Linked DNA regions of Homo sapiens: region 2 is linked to region 1. The links come from fine-mapping of genetic effects on gene expression. Tissue or cell type: blood mononuclear cells. Region 1 holds a variant in brackets; the other region holds the start of a gene. All regions are shown on one strand. Distances are from middle to middle.

What was found. PIP is the estimated chance that this variant, and not a neighbour inherited with it, causes the effect.
Region 2: it holds the start of ABHD12, and the variant in region 1 is fine-mapped to the expression of ABHD12 in blood mononuclear cells (TOPMed, PIP 0.92).

What each region holds. Positions count from the first base shown.
Region 1 is chr20:25,715,599-25,724,070 of GRCh38, forward strand. The region is part of intron 1 of LOC107985400 (a long non-coding RNA gene); the gene reads left to right. Among named protein-coding and RNA genes, the nearest start is that of ZNF337, 23 kb to the left of the region's middle. RefSeq lists enhancers at 3,339-3,854, 3,855-4,370. The variant G/A (reference allele first, on the strand shown) is at 3,842.
Region 2 is chr20:25,388,754-25,395,185 of GRCh38, forward strand. It overlaps ABHD12 (abhydrolase domain containing 12, lysophospholipase), which reads right to left and starts at 2,082. Exons shown (of 13, transcript NM_001042472.3): 1 at 1,760-2,082. The coding sequence starts at 1,950. It overlaps LOC105372581 (a long non-coding RNA gene), which reads right to left. Exons shown (of 3, transcript XR_937403.3): 3 at 5,897-5,970. RefSeq lists silencers at 1,172-1,331, 1,502-1,661, 1,702-1,751, 1,792-2,211.

The sequences.
Region 1 (8,472 bases):
ACAGGGACAATTTGGCTTCCTCTTTTCCTAATTGAATACCCTTTATTTCCTTCTCCTGCCTAATTGCCCTGGCCAGAACTTCCAACACTATGTTGAATAGGAGTGGTGAGAGAGGGCATCCCTGTCTTGTGCCAGTTTTCAAAGTGAATGCTTCCAGTTTTTGCCCATTGAGTATGATATTGGCTGTGGGTTTGTCATAGGTAGCTCTTATTATTTTGAGATACGTCCCATCAATACCTAATTTATTGAGAGTTTTTAGCAAGAAGGGTTGTTGAATTTTGTCAAAGGCCTTTACTGCATCTATTGAGATAATCATGTGGTTTTTGTCTTTGGTTCTGTTTATATGCTGGATTACATTTATTGATTTGCGTATATTGAACCAACCTTGCATCCCAGGGATGAAGCCCACTTGATCATGGTGGATAAGCTTTTTAATGTGCTGCTGGGTTCGGTTTGCCAGTATTTTATTGAGGATTTTTGCATCAATGTTCATCAAGGATATTGGTCTAAAATTCTCTTTTTTGGTTGTGTCTCTGCCCGGCTTTGGTATCAGGATGATCCTGGCCTCATAAAATGAGTTAGGGAGGATTCCCTCTTTTTCTATTGATTGGAATAGTTTCAGAAGGAATGGTACCAGTTCCTCCTTGTACCTCTGGTAGAATTCAGCTGTGAATCCATCTGGTCCTGGACTCTGTTAGGTTGGTAAGCTATTGATTGTTGCCACAATTTCAGCTCCTGTTATTGGTCTATTCAGAGATTGAATTTCTTCCTGGTTTAGTCTTCGGAGGGTGTATGTGTCGAGGAATATATCCATTTCTTCTAGATTTTCTAGTTTATTTTCATAGAGGTGTTTGTAATGTTCTCTGATGGTAGTTTGTATTTCTGTGGGATCAGTGGTGATATCCCCTTTATCGTTTTTTATTGCGTCTATTTGATTCTTCTCTCTTTTCTTCTTTATTAGTCTTGCTAGTGGTCTATCAATTTTGTTGATCCTTTCGAAAAACCAGCTCCTGGATTCATTAATTTTTTGAAGGGTTGTTTGTGTCTCTATTTCCTGCAGTTCTGCTCTGATTTTAGTTATTTCTTGCCTTCTGCTAGCTTTTGAATGTGTTTGCTCTTGCTTTTCTAGTTCTTTTAATTGTGATGTTAGGGTGTCAATTTTGGATCTTTCCTGCTTTCTCTTGTGGGTATTTAGTGCTATAAATTTCCCTCTACACACTGCTTTGAATGTGTCCCAGAGATTCTGGTATGTTGTGTCTTTGTTCTCGTTGGTTTCAAAGAACATCTTTATTTCTGCCTTCATTTTGTTATGTACCCAGTAGTAATTCAGGAGCAGGTTGTTCAGTTTCCATGTAGTTGAGTGGTTTTGAGTGGGTTTCTTAATCGTGAGTTCTAGTTTGATTGCACTGTGGTCTGAGAGACAGTTTGTTATAATTTCTGTTCTTTTACATTTGCTGAGGAGAGCTTTACTTCCCAGTATGTGGTCAATTTTGGAATAGGTGTGGTGTGGTGCTGAAAGAAATGTGTATTTTGTTGATTTGGGGTGGAGAGTTCTGTAGATGTCCATTAGGTCTGCTTGGTGCAGAGCTGAGTTCAATTCCTGGGTATCCTTCTTAACTTTCTGTCTCGTTGATCTGTCTAATGTTGACAGTGGGGTGTTAAAGTCTCCCATTATTATTGTGTGGGAGTCTAAGTCTCTTTGTAGGTCACTCAGGACTTGCTTTATGAATCTGGGTGCTCCTGTATTGGGTGCATATATATTTAGGATAGTTAGCTCTTCTTGTTGATTTGATCCCTTTACCACTATGCAATGGCCTTCTTTGTCTCTTTTGTTCTTTGTTGGTTTAAAGTCTGTTTTATCAGAGACTAGGATTGCAACCCTGCCTTTTTTTGTTTTCCATTTGCTTGGTAGATCTTCCTCCATCCTTTTGTTTTGAGCCTATCTGTGTCTCTGCACGTGAGATGGGTTTCATGAATACAGCACACTGATGGGTCTTGACTCTTTATCCAATTTGCCAGTCTGTGTCTTTTATTTGGAGCATTTATTCCATTTACATTTAAAGTTAATATTGCTTTGTGTGAATTTGATCCTGTCATTATGATGTTAGCTGGTTATTTTGCTCGTTAGTTAATGCAGTTTCTTCCTAGCCTTGATGGTCTTTACAATTTGGCATGATTTTGCAGTGGCTGTTACCGGTTGTTCCTTTCCATGTTTAGTGCTTCCTTCAGGAGCTCTTTTAGGGCAGGCCTGGTGGTGACAAAATCTCTCAACATTTGCTTTTCTGTAAAGTATTTTATTTCTCCTTCACTTATGAAGCTTAGTTTGGCTGGATATGAAATTCTGGGTTGAAAATTCTTTTCTTTAAGAATGTTGAATGTTGGCCCTCACTGTCTTCTGGCTTGTTGAGTTTCTGTGAAGGGATCAGCAGTTAGTCTCATGGGCTTCCCTTTGTGGGTATCCCGACCTTTCTCTCTGGCTTCCCTTAACATTTTTTCCTTCATTTCAACTTTGGTGAACCTGACAATTATGTGTCTTGGAGTTGCTCTTCTCGAGGAGTATCTTTGTGGTATTCTCTGTATTTCCTGAATCTGAATGCTGGCTTGCCTTGCTAGATTGGGTAAGTTCTCCTGGATAATATCCTGCAGAGCGTTTTCCAACTTGGTTCCATTCTCCCCATCACTTTCAGGTACACCAGTCAGATGTAGATTTGGTCTTTTCACATAGTCCCATATTTCTTGGAGGCTTTATTCATTTCTTTTTATTGTTTTTTCTCTAAACTTCCCTTCTCGCTTCATTTCATTCATTTCATCTTCCATCACTGATACCCTTTCTTCCATTTGATTGCATCGGCTCCTGAGGCTTCTGCATTCTTCACGTAGTTCTTGAGCCTTGGCTTTCAGCATCTTCAGCTCCTTTAAGCACTTCTCTGTATTGGTTATTCTAGTTATACATTCGTCTTAATTTTTTTCAAAGTTTTTAACTTCTTTGCCTTTGGTTTGAATTTCCTCCTGTAGCTCAGAGTAGTTTTGTCATCTGAAGCTTTCTTCTCTCAACTCATCAAAGTCATTCTCCGTCCAGCTTTGTTTCATTGCTGGTGAGGAACTGCATTCCTTTGGAGGAGGAGAGGTGCTCTGCTTTTTAGAGTTTCCAGTTTTTCCAATTTTTCTGCTCTGTTTTTTCCCCATCTTTGTGGTTTTATCTGCTTTTGGTCTTTGATGATGGTGATGTACAGATGGGTTTTTGATGTGGATGTCCTTTCTGTTTGTTAGTTTTCCTTCTGACAGACAGGACCCTCAGCTGCAGGTCTGTTGGAGTTTGCTAGAAGTCCACTCCAGACCTTGTTTGCCTGGGTACCAGCAGCGGTGGCTGCAGAATAGCAGATTTTCGTGAACCGTGAATGCTGCTGTCTGATCTTTCCTCTGGAAGTTTTGTCTCAGAGGAGTACCCGGCCGTGTGAGGTGTCAGTCTGCCCCTACTGGGGGTGTCTCCCAGTTAGGCTGCTCGGGGGTCAGGGTTCAGGGACCCACTTGAGGAGTCAGTCTGCCCGTTCTCAGATCTCCAGCTGTGTGCTGGGAGAACCACTGCTCTCTTCAAAGCTGTCAGACAGGGACATTTAAGTCTGCAGAGGTTCCTGCTGTCTTTTTGTTTGTCTGTGCCCTGCCCCCAGAGGTGGAGCCTACAGAGGCAGGCAGGCCTCCTTGAGCTGTGGTGGGCTCCACCCAGTTCGAGTTTCCTGGCTGCTTTGTTTGCCTAAGCAAGCCTGGGCAATGGCAGGCGCTCCTCCCCCAGCCTCACTGTCGCCTTGCAGTTTGATCTCAGACTGCTGTGCTAGCAATCAGC[G/A]AGACTCCATGGGCATAGGACCCTCCAAGCCAGGTGTGGGATATAATCTTCTGTTGTGCCGTTTTTTAAGCCTGTCCGAAAAGTGCAGCATTAGGGTGGGAGTGACCCAATTTTCCAGATGCCATCTGTCACCCCTTTCTTTGACTAGGAAAGGGAACTCCTTGACCCTTTGCGCTTCCCAAGTGAGGCAATGCCTCGCCCTGCTTCAGCTCGTGCACGGTGCACTGCACCCATTGTCCTGTGCCCACTCTCTGGCACTCCCTAGTGAGATGAACCCGGTACCTCAGATGGAAATGCAGAAATCACCCATCTTCTGCATCGCTCACGTTGGGAGCTGTAGACCAGAGCTGTTCCTGTTCAGTCATCTTGGCTCCATCCATCCCAAAGACCCATTTTTCTTGTTTTATCTACCTTTGGTCTTTGATGCTGGTGACCAACAGATGGGGTTTTGCTGTGGATGTCCCTTTTGTTGATGTTGATGCTATTCCTTTCTGTTTGTCAGTTTTCCTTCTAAGAGTCAGGTCCCTCAGCTGCAGGTCTGTTGGAGTTTGCTGGAGGTCCACTCCAGACCCTCTTTGCCTGGATATCACTAGGAGAGGCTGCAGCACAGCAAATATTGCAGAACAGCAAATGTTGCTGCCTGATCCTTCCTCTGGAAGCTTCATCCCAGAGGGGCACCCTCCTGTATGATGTGTCAGTTGGCCCCTACTGGGAGGTGTCTCCCAGTTTGGCTACATGCGTGTCAGGGACCCACTTGAGGAGGCAGTCTATCCATTCTCAGAGCTCAAACACCATGCTGGGAGAACCACTTCTCTCTTCAGAGCTGTCAGACAGGGATATTTAAGTCTGCAGAAGTTTCTGCTGTCTTTTGTTTAGCTATTCCCCACCCCCAGAGGTGGGGTCTACAGAGGCAGCAGGCCTTGCAGAGCTGCGGTGGGCTCTGCCCCGTTCAAGCTTCCCAGGCCACTTTGTTTACCTACTCACGCCTGAGCAATGGCGGACACCTCTCCCACTGCCAGACTGCTGCCTCACAGGTCGATCTCAGACTGCTGCTGTAGCAGTGAGCAAGGCTCTGTGGGTGTGGGTCCTGCCAAGCCAGGTGCGAGATATAATCTCTGGGTGTGCCATTTGCTAAGACTGTAGGTAAAGCACAGTATTTGTGTGAGGGTGTCCGGATTTTCTAGGTTCAGTCTGACTTGGCTTCCCTTGGCTGGGAAAGGGAAATCCCCTGACCCCTTGCACTTCCCAGGTAAGGTGATGCACCACCCTGCTTTGGCTCACCCTCCATGGGCTGCATCCACTGTCCAACCAGTCCCAGTAAGATGAACCAGGTACCTCAGTTGGAAATGCAGAAATTGCCATCTTCTGCATTGATCATGCTGGGAGCTGCAGACGGGAGCTGTTCCTATTCGGCTGTCTTGGAGCAGAATCCTGGCTTATGTTTTTTTTTCAATGGGAGCCTCCAATCACCATAAAAGATTATGTACCTTACATAGTTGTACTTGTTATACTTTTTAATTTTTATTTTTCATTTCTTTAGTAGGTACAAGTGCAGATTTCTTACATGCATATATTGCATACTGTTGGGTAGACTGGGCTTTTAGTGTACCCGTCACCTTAATAGTGATCACTGTACCCAATAGGTAAATTTTCAACCATCACCTCTCTCCCACCCTCCTATCTTTTGTAGTCTCCAATGCGTATTATTTCACTCTGTATGTCCATATGTATCAATTGTTTAGCTCTCATTTACAAGTGATGGCATGCAGTATTTGACTTTCTGTTTCTGAGTTTTTCACTTAAGATAATGGGCTTCAATACCATCAGTGTTGCTGCAAAAGACATGATTTTATGGCTGAGTAGTATTTTCTATATCCAGTTCTCCGCTGATGGACATGTATGTTTATTTCTTTTTTTGCAATTGTGAATAGGTCTGTGATAAACATGAGTGCAGGTATATTTTTGATATACTGATTTCTTTTCCTTTGGGTATATACCCAGTAATGGAATTGGATCAAATGGTAGTTCTGTTATTAGTTCTTTGAGAAATCTCCTTATTGTTTTCCGTAGAGGTTGTACTTATTTACATTTCTACCAACAGTATATAAGCATTACCTTTTCTTCACATCCTCATCAACATCTGTTTTGTTTTTTTTGACTTTTTAGTAATAGCCATTCTGACTGGTATAAGATTGTATTTTACTATTTTAATTTTTATTTCTCTGATGATTAGAAATATTGAGCATTTTTCATGTTTGTTGACTGCTTGTAGGTACTCTTTTGAAAAATGTCTGTTTGTATCCTTTGCCCGCTTTTTAATGGGGTTGTTTCTTGTTGTTTTGTTGTTAGAGTTCCTTGTAGATTCTGGATGTAAGCGCTTTGTTGGATGCATAGTTTGCAAATATATTTTCCCACTTTATAGGTTGTCTGTTTACTTTATTAATTATTTCTTTTGCTGTGCAGAAACTTTTTAGTTAAATTATCTCGTCTGTTTATTTTTATTGCATTTGCTTTTGAGGACTTGGTCATTAATTCTTTGCCTAGACCAATGTCTGGAAGGGTTTTTCCTAAGTTTTCTTCTAGGATTTCTGTGGTTTCAGGTCTTACACTTTGGTCTTTGATCCATATTGAGTTTATTTTTGTATATTTTGAGAGGTATGGGTCCAGTTTTATTATCCCATATGTGTTTATCCAATTTTACTGGCACCACTTATTTATAGGGTGTCATTTCCCCAGAATATATTTTTGTTGACTTTTTAAAAGATAAGTTGGTTGTAGGTATGGGGCTTTATTTCTGAGTTGTCTATTCTGCTCCATTGATCTATGTGTCTATGTTATGCCAGTACAATGCTGTTTTGGTTTCTATAGTTTTGTAGTATAATTTGAAAACAGGTAATGTGATGCCTCCAGCTTTGTTCTTCTTCCTTAGAATTGCTTTGGCTGTTCAGGCCCTTTTTTTGGTTCCATATTAATTTTAGGATTTTTTTTTCTAATTCTGTGAAAAATAACATTGGTAATTTGATAGGGATTGTGTTGAATCTGTAGTTTGCCTTGAACAGTATGGTCATTTTAATGATATTGCATATTCTAATTTATAAGCGTGGGGGTTTTTCATTTGTTTATGTCATCTAGGATTTTTTTCATCAGTGTTTTGTAGTTCTCCTTCTAGAAGTCTTTCAGCTTCTAGGTCAAAGATATTCCTCGGTATTTTTTTGTAGCTATTGTAAATGGGATTGTTTTCTTGATTTGGCCTTTGGCTGGCTCATTATTTGTGTATATAAACACTACTGATATTTGTACATTAATTTTGTATCCTGACGCTCACTGCTTCCTTTGTCAAATTTAAGAATTTTGGGCAGCATCTTTAGGGTTCTTCAGGAATAATATTATATCATCAGCAAACAGGGGTAACTTGACTTCCTCTTTTCCAATTTGGATGCATTTTATTTCTTTCTTCTGCCTGATTGCTCTGGCAAGAAATTCCAGTACTGTGTTGAATAAGAATAGTGAAAGTCGGCATCCTTGTATTGTTCTAGTTCTTACAGGAAATGCTTTCAACTTTCCCATATTAGATATGATGTTGTTGGGTACACATGGACACAAAGATGGGAAGAGTAGACATGGGACACTCTAAATTAGGGGAGGAAGGATGGGGAACAAGGGTTGGGAGATTACTTATTGGGTACTATGTTTGCTACTTGGGCAACAGATCATTAGAAGCCCAAACCTCAGCATCAGAAAATATACCCATATAAAAAACCTGCACAGGTACCCCTGAATCTAAAATTTTAAAAAACGAGATAGAATTATGAGATTAGGTAATGCATATTTTAGCCTTAGGATTGAGGTCTTTGCAAAAAGTAGGGAAAATGTCTTCTTACTCATTTCCTTATGCACAAAACATGTCCTCAGAAATATTTCTACTAGCATCATTAAATGTATTTTCAAATTTCTCTATTTAGGGCCCTGTGCTAGTTGCTAAGGATGTAGGTAAAACAAGTGAACAAGAAAATCCTGTTTTGAAAGGTCTTCTGATTCTAGTGGGAGAAAGAAAAAGAGTTTGATATTAATCAGCTGCCCTCTTGGAATAAGCAGAAATACTACCACATTCTTATAGATGAATGATACACAGGAGGATCTGAAGGGTTTCTATTTTTTAAAAAGTATGATGTTGGCTGTGGGTTTGTTGTATATAATCTTTATTATGTTGAAGTATATTTCTTCTATGCCTAGTTTGTTGAGGATTTTTATCATGAAGTGATGCTGAGTTTTATTGGATGCCTTTTCTGCATCTGTTGAGATGATCATATGGTTTTTGTTTCTAATTCTGTTGATGTGATATATCACACTTACTGATTTCCATATGTTAAACCATCCTTCCGCCCTTGGGATAAATTACACCTGATCGTGGTGTGGTATCTTTTTGATGTGCTGTTGGATTCCATTTTTTAGTGTTTTGTTGAGGATTCCCTGCTTATCTATGTTTTAGAATAGTTTCAAAAGAATAGGTATTAATTTTTTTTGTATGTTTGGTGTAATTTGGCTGTGAATCCTCCTGATCCTGGGATTTTTTTGTTGAGAGATTTTTTATTACTGATTTCAGTCTCACTACCAATTATTTGTCTCTTTGG
Region 2 (6,432 bases), 330 kb before region 1:
CCCCAAACGTTGTGTAAAACAATTTGATTTTTTCTTTTTTTTTTTTTTTTTTGAGACGGAGTTCCGTTCTTGTTGTCCAGGCTGGAGTGCACTGGTGCGATCTCGGTTCGGCGAGATCTTGGCTCACCGCAACCTCCGCCTCCCAGATTCAAGCGATTCTCCCGCCTCAGCCTCCCGAGTAGCTGGGATTACAGGCATATGCGCCACCACGCCCGGCTAATTTTGTATTTTTAGTACAGACGGGGTTTCTCCATGTTGGTCAAGCTGGTCTCGAACTCCTGACCTCTGATAATCTGCCCGCCTCGGTCTCCCAGAGTGCTGGCATTACAGGCGTGAGCCACCGCGCCCGGCAATTTGATTTTTTCGAAGGAAGAATTTTCCAATTTATCTAAGCGTTATGCCATGTCTGTTAATAAAATTGTATTAAAGTTAAATCATGAGTTTTTAATGCAGATAAATCTTTCCATAGCAAAGAGAACAGATTAGTTTCACAAAAGATATTGATCAGATGCTACATAATTTTACACATAAAGACACAAAACTATCAGTCTCCGCCCTTCTGTCAAACCATCGACTTAGAAGTGTCTATAGTTTAATTTCATGATTTTTTTAAGCAATGAAGTTGAAATTCTACTTTTCCTTAGGAGCGATACGCATATTTTACACTCAAGTGGCCAGCGTCAACTAAGGGCATTCCAGATGGTCAAAAAAGAAGTGCCTCTGCTACAACGCCTGAGATCATCATATAGTAACTTCTTCAAACCACCACGAAGTAGCAAGGCTTCAAAGCTGTCAGGAATGCTACGTTCTACAACAGCCAGATAATTAGGAAACCAGCAGATGGGAGGAGAAATCTGTCCCTATGAAACACGTTCCCATCTCAGTTTTGAAAGTGGCTTTATATAAACGCATTCATCTTCTACCCAATAACCCAAAGGTTATTGAACGCCAATAACCAAACGACTCAGGACTGCGAGATGATTCCCAAGGAGGCGAACTTGTGCGGACAGATTTCAAGTACCACGAACCATCACCAGCAGAGCGAAGGGCAGGTTTCCCTCCGACGGCTGCGATGCTCCGAGTCCCTCCTTCCCCTAGCACCCCGCCGCCCACTGAGCCCTTCCCCAAAGGTCCCCGAGTTCTGAGCGACGCACGCCCCCGACCCTAGTTACCGGGGAGAGCCGCCGAGGGCCCAAGGCGCCAGTAAGGCTCCGCGCACGCAGCCCAGCCCGAGGGGCGCCCGCCCGGGCGCTCGGTGTGGGGCCTGATGCAGAGCAGGAGGAGGAGGTCCGAGTGGGCCCCAGCGCTCTCAGGGTCTGGCGCCGGCCCCTCTGCCTCCCGCCTCTGCTGTGCCTGGCGTCCAGGGATCTTCCAAGGACTCCCCACCCCCTACCCTGCTCTCCCACGCGGGGTCATGACTTCGGGCGGCGCCAAGCCCCCAGCGTAAGGGTCCCCCCGGCTTCCCCGGGAAAGGGTCGGGGTGCAAGGCTAGGCCAGGAGTGCCTGGCGAGAGGGCCGGAGCAGGACACAGGGGGTCAGCGGCAGGGCAGGGCGCTCCCGCCGCGGTGCCTGGGGAAGGGAGCGGGGGTGGGGCTGCCGCGGGCCAAATGCGGGACACAGGCGCGGACGGGGGCGGCCGCGGATCGGGCGGACGGCCACTCTGGGAGGGGCTGGGAGGTACCGCGGCCCCCTGCGGGACGCACCTGCGCAAAGTGAGGGACCGGCCCCCCCCCCCCCCCCGCTCCGCGCGAAGCCTCACCTGCCCAGCGCCCGCTTCATTCCCGCGTCGGCTGCGCAGCGCGGCTCAGCCGCCGCCGGGCCCGTCAGGCGTAGGTTCTGCTTCAGGCGGCAGTCGGCGTCCAGCGCCGCGGCGGCCGAGCCGGAGGAGGACGAGCCCGCGGCGGCGCAGCGCTCATGCTCCAAGGCGACGGGCTCGGTCCGCTTCCTCATCCCGCGGCCGACAGGGCCAGCCGCCGACGGCGCCCGCTGGCCTGCGCCGCAGTGCCGCCGCTCACAGCCGCCGCCACCCAGAGCCCGGAGCCCGGAACCCGCCGCTCCTCACATCCCAGCCCAGGCCGCTGCGCCGGCTACGAACCAGCGGCGGGGGCCCGCCAGCCAGGCCGGCCAATCAGCGCCGGGCTCCCGCCGGCTCTGCCCTACCCCCCTCCCCCGGCCCCGCCCCGGCCACCTCCTCTCTAGTTCCAAGGAGCGCGCGCCCAGCATCCCTGGCGCCACCCGCAGCCATTTTGTGGGAGGGTGGGCGAAGCTGCAGCGGCGCGTCATCTGCAGGGCAGGGCTCTGGGCTCCATCCGCAGGCTGCAGCTGTGCTCGCCCGGGCGCTCGGTGTGAGGAGCACCCGCTCCCGGTCGTGCCCGAAAGGGGTGGCCCAGCGAGGCAGAGCCGCAGCGCTGGGCTCCTCGTGCTTCTGTGAACGGAAAACCAGAGGTAGCAAATAGCAGTTCCGTTCTCGTGATTCTTAATTCTTTTTCCACAAGGACATTACCTTTAAAAGTATGCTTTCCGGTCGTCAGTTTTTAATTTGAAGTAAATGTATATACTCAGTGTTTACTTTTGGGCCGAACATCAGGAAATGAACTGCTTGAAAAATTTACTTTTTAAAAACCTGTGTTAGATTTTAGATTTTTATAAAGCAATTAAGACTACCTGATGGGAGGAAAATCCATTTCAAAGATAAATTCGCCCTTATGAAACCCAAATTTAGTACTAATTCAACCCATCCTAGAAAGAGAAAAGGAAAGAATAAAGGGCTGTTTCACAAATTTAGTTTTATAACTTTGGCTTTCTTCAATATGGCATTAGTTTTACAGATGATCTATAACAAAGAGAGATATTTGCTTATTCCAAAGTAACGTTAGAAATTTCAGCATTTGTCACTTTGAAAACTATTGGCAATTGATAAAGGTCAATTGGAAATGCGTTTAGAAATTCAACAGCTTTTTATATTAGTTTTTTCTTTTTTTTTTTTTTTTTTTTTGAGACGGAGTCTCGCTCTCGCCCAGGCTGGAGTGCAGTGGCGCGATCTCGGCTCACTGCAAACTCCGCCTCCCAGGTTCACGCCAGTCTCCTGCCTCAGCCTCCCAAGTAGCTGGGACTACAGGCGCCGGCTACCATGCCCGGCTAATTTTTTTGTATTTTTAGTAGAGACAGGGTTTCACTGTGTAGCCAGGATGGTCTCGATCTCTCGATCCCGTGATCCGCCCGCCTCGGCCTCCCAAAGTGCTGGGATTACAGGCATGAGCCACCGCGCCCGGCTGCTTTTTAAATTAGTTTTGTAATGATACTTTGAAATTGCAAAATAATTTATTGACCATATTACTAAGTGTTACAGCCTGCATTCATAATTGTGTCAATATCTCCAGATATACTTTTTAAAAACATTATGGGCCGAGCTCAGTGGCTCATGCCTGTAATCTCAGCACTTTGGGAGGCGGAGGTGGGTGGATCATTTAAGCACAGGAGATGGAGGCCAGATCAGCCTGGCCAGCATGGTGAAACTCCGTCTCTACTAAAAATACAAAAATTAGCCGGGTGTGGTGGCACAAGCCTGGGTGACAGAGCAAGACTCTGTTTAAAAAAAAAAAAAAAAAAAAGGCTGGGCGAGGTGTCTCACGCCTGTGAGCCCAGCACTTTGGGAGGCCGAGGCGGGCGGATCACGAGGTCAGGAGATTGAGGCTATCCTGGCCAATGTAGTGAAACCCCGTCTCTACTAAAAACACAAAAATTAGCCAGGTATGGTGGCACAACCCTATAATCCCAGCTAATTGGGAGGCTGAGGCAGGAGAATCGCTTGAACTTGGGAGGCGGAGGTTGCAGTGAGCTGAGATCACACCATTGCACCCCAGTCTTGGGGACAAAAGCAAACTTCTGTCTCAAAAAAAAAAAAAAAAATTAGCTGGGCATGGTGGCGCGTGCCTGTATTCCCAGCTACTTGGGAAGCTGAGGCAGGAGAATCGCTTGAACCAGGGAGTCGGAGGTTGTGGTGAGCCGAAATTGTGCCACTGCACTCCAGCCTGGCGACAGAGGGAGACTCCTCTCAAAAACAAACAAACAAAAAAATTAGCTGGGTGTGGTGGCGCACGCCTGTAATCCCATCTACTTGGGAGGCTGAGGCAGGAGAATTGCTTGAACCCGGGATGCTGGGATTCGGAGGTTGCAGTGAGCCGAGATTGCACCACTGCACTCTAGCCTGGGTGACAGAGCAGGACTCCATCTCAAAATAAACAAACAAACATACTATGGAATGTAAATTATAAATTCTTTATAGTGATGTAGTAACACATCCTGGAGAGATTGGAAATCTAGGAAATAACTAAAACGTAAAAAAAAAAAAAGAGGTTTTGACTCTATCGCTCACTTCAATTAAAAAAACAACAACAACAAAAAAAAAACAGCCAGGCGCGGTGGCTCATGCCTGTAATCCCAGCACATTGGGAGGCCGAGGCGGGCGGATCACAAGGTCAGGAGATCATGACCATCCTGGCTAACACGGTTTCACACCCCGTCTCTCTAATAACAATATAAAAAATTAGCCGGGCATGGTGGCGGGCGCCTGTAGTCCCAGCTACTTGGGAGGCTGAAGCAGGAGAATGGCGTGAACCCGGGAGGCGGAGCTTGCAGTGAGCGGAGATCGCACCACTGCACTCCATCCTGGGCGACAGAGTGAGACTCCGACTCAAAAAAACCAAACAAACAAACCAAAAAAAAAAAAAAAAAAAAACAAGGAAGGAAGAGCTGGAGAGGAAAAATCTGTACCGTGTATTGAATCTTTCTTACAGGCACGAGGCCCTGCCCACACAGTGCTCAACTCTTGGTGGTTGAGCCCATGCTAGTGATGCCCACATTTTTATCATTGGTCCACACCTCTCCTTGACCCTTAGGCTCCTCATCATTTCTGCTCTGATTTCTGACAAGCACCACTTCAATGCTGAGCTCCCAACTCTTCTCCCACCCCCAACTCCATCCATGACCTTCTCTGGTAATTCTATTGCAGTTCCTGGGGCCACAATTCTGGGGTCATCCTTGACTTCTCCTTTCTTGTGCTATAGCATGTCTATCACCAAGCCTTGTCAGCTGTGCTTTCAAAATCTATGAGAATTTAACCATTAAATTTTACCGCCTCCATGGTCCCCACCCTGGGCCAAACTGCTGTTATCTCTCACCTCCATTATTTGAATAGCCTAACTGGTCTCCTGCCTCCACTTTGCCTCACTTCTGTCCACTTAATTCAGCTGCCACATAGGGTTTTCTTGTTGTTACAAGGTCTAATTCTGTCATTTATTTGCTCACAACACCTAAGTGGCTCCCCATCTCACTCAAAACCCAAGGCTTACAAAAGGGTTTAACATGGCCCTCCCTGACTGTAGAGCACCCGATTCTGTCGTTGATCAGGGGTGCCACTTGCAACCTGCATGGACTTAGGGTAACAACAAAGGGTGGTGAACGTGAGAATAAAAGACAAGAGACAAGAGTATGTTTGGAAGAAGGGGTCAGGGGGCACCTTGCCTCTAGTGGACAAGGGCCCTGAGCTTTACACAGCCCTCCATATTTATTAGGCAAAACAGATAGGGATAAATGGGGGGTGATTGTGGGGTAATTGTCAGTCGGCTGGTTGGTTCACAGCAGGCTTGCCAGACTGCATCGTTTGAACAATAGACACTAGATTTCTCAGTAGATAACTTCAAGGAGCCCCGTGCCAGGGAGTGAGGCCCTCAGCCAACCTTTTGGTGGCAGGCGCAGTGTGAGTTTGCTCACATCCTGCATTCGTGATAGTGATAAACAGTTTGCTATTTGATCATATAGCCTCCAGTGGAATGCTGAGTTGATCATGATCCCTTTGGCCTTTTTGGCTCCCAACATCTCTCCCTTTGTGTTTATGTATTAATTGAAAGAATGTAAGGCCAGGCTGGGCATCTCTCATTCTCTGATTGGCAGTCCGTCCGATTTTACAGACTATGAGCAGAAGACAGAGACAAAACAACATTATTCCAAGAACTACATATAAATTGTTAATGTGGTGCTTTAGATAGGTCCAAGGGTTGAGGCTTGCCAGGCGTTGCTGGAATTTGGTCCAGTCTTCTAAAGCAGGTTGAAATTTTTGAGTTTGCTTATTTAAAACAAGAATTTTGTTTTGTAATTCACCAATATCAAAGGTGATGTTGGATGTGAACGCTCCCTGTAAATGGGCTTTCACAAGGTCCCATGGATAGTCACTTTGGTTATATTCTTAGTTGTTTACACAAATATGAGTGTGGTTAAAATGACAATGCAACTGATGCTGCAACTGCAAGCTCTGTACTTTTTCTCCTAACCAAAGGACCGTGGATTTTAACATTGCCACTTCAGTTTGTAACTCAGTGTTAATTTTATTCTGAAGTAGCCACGGTTGGTCAGCTGTGCGCGTCCAGTTCTCCA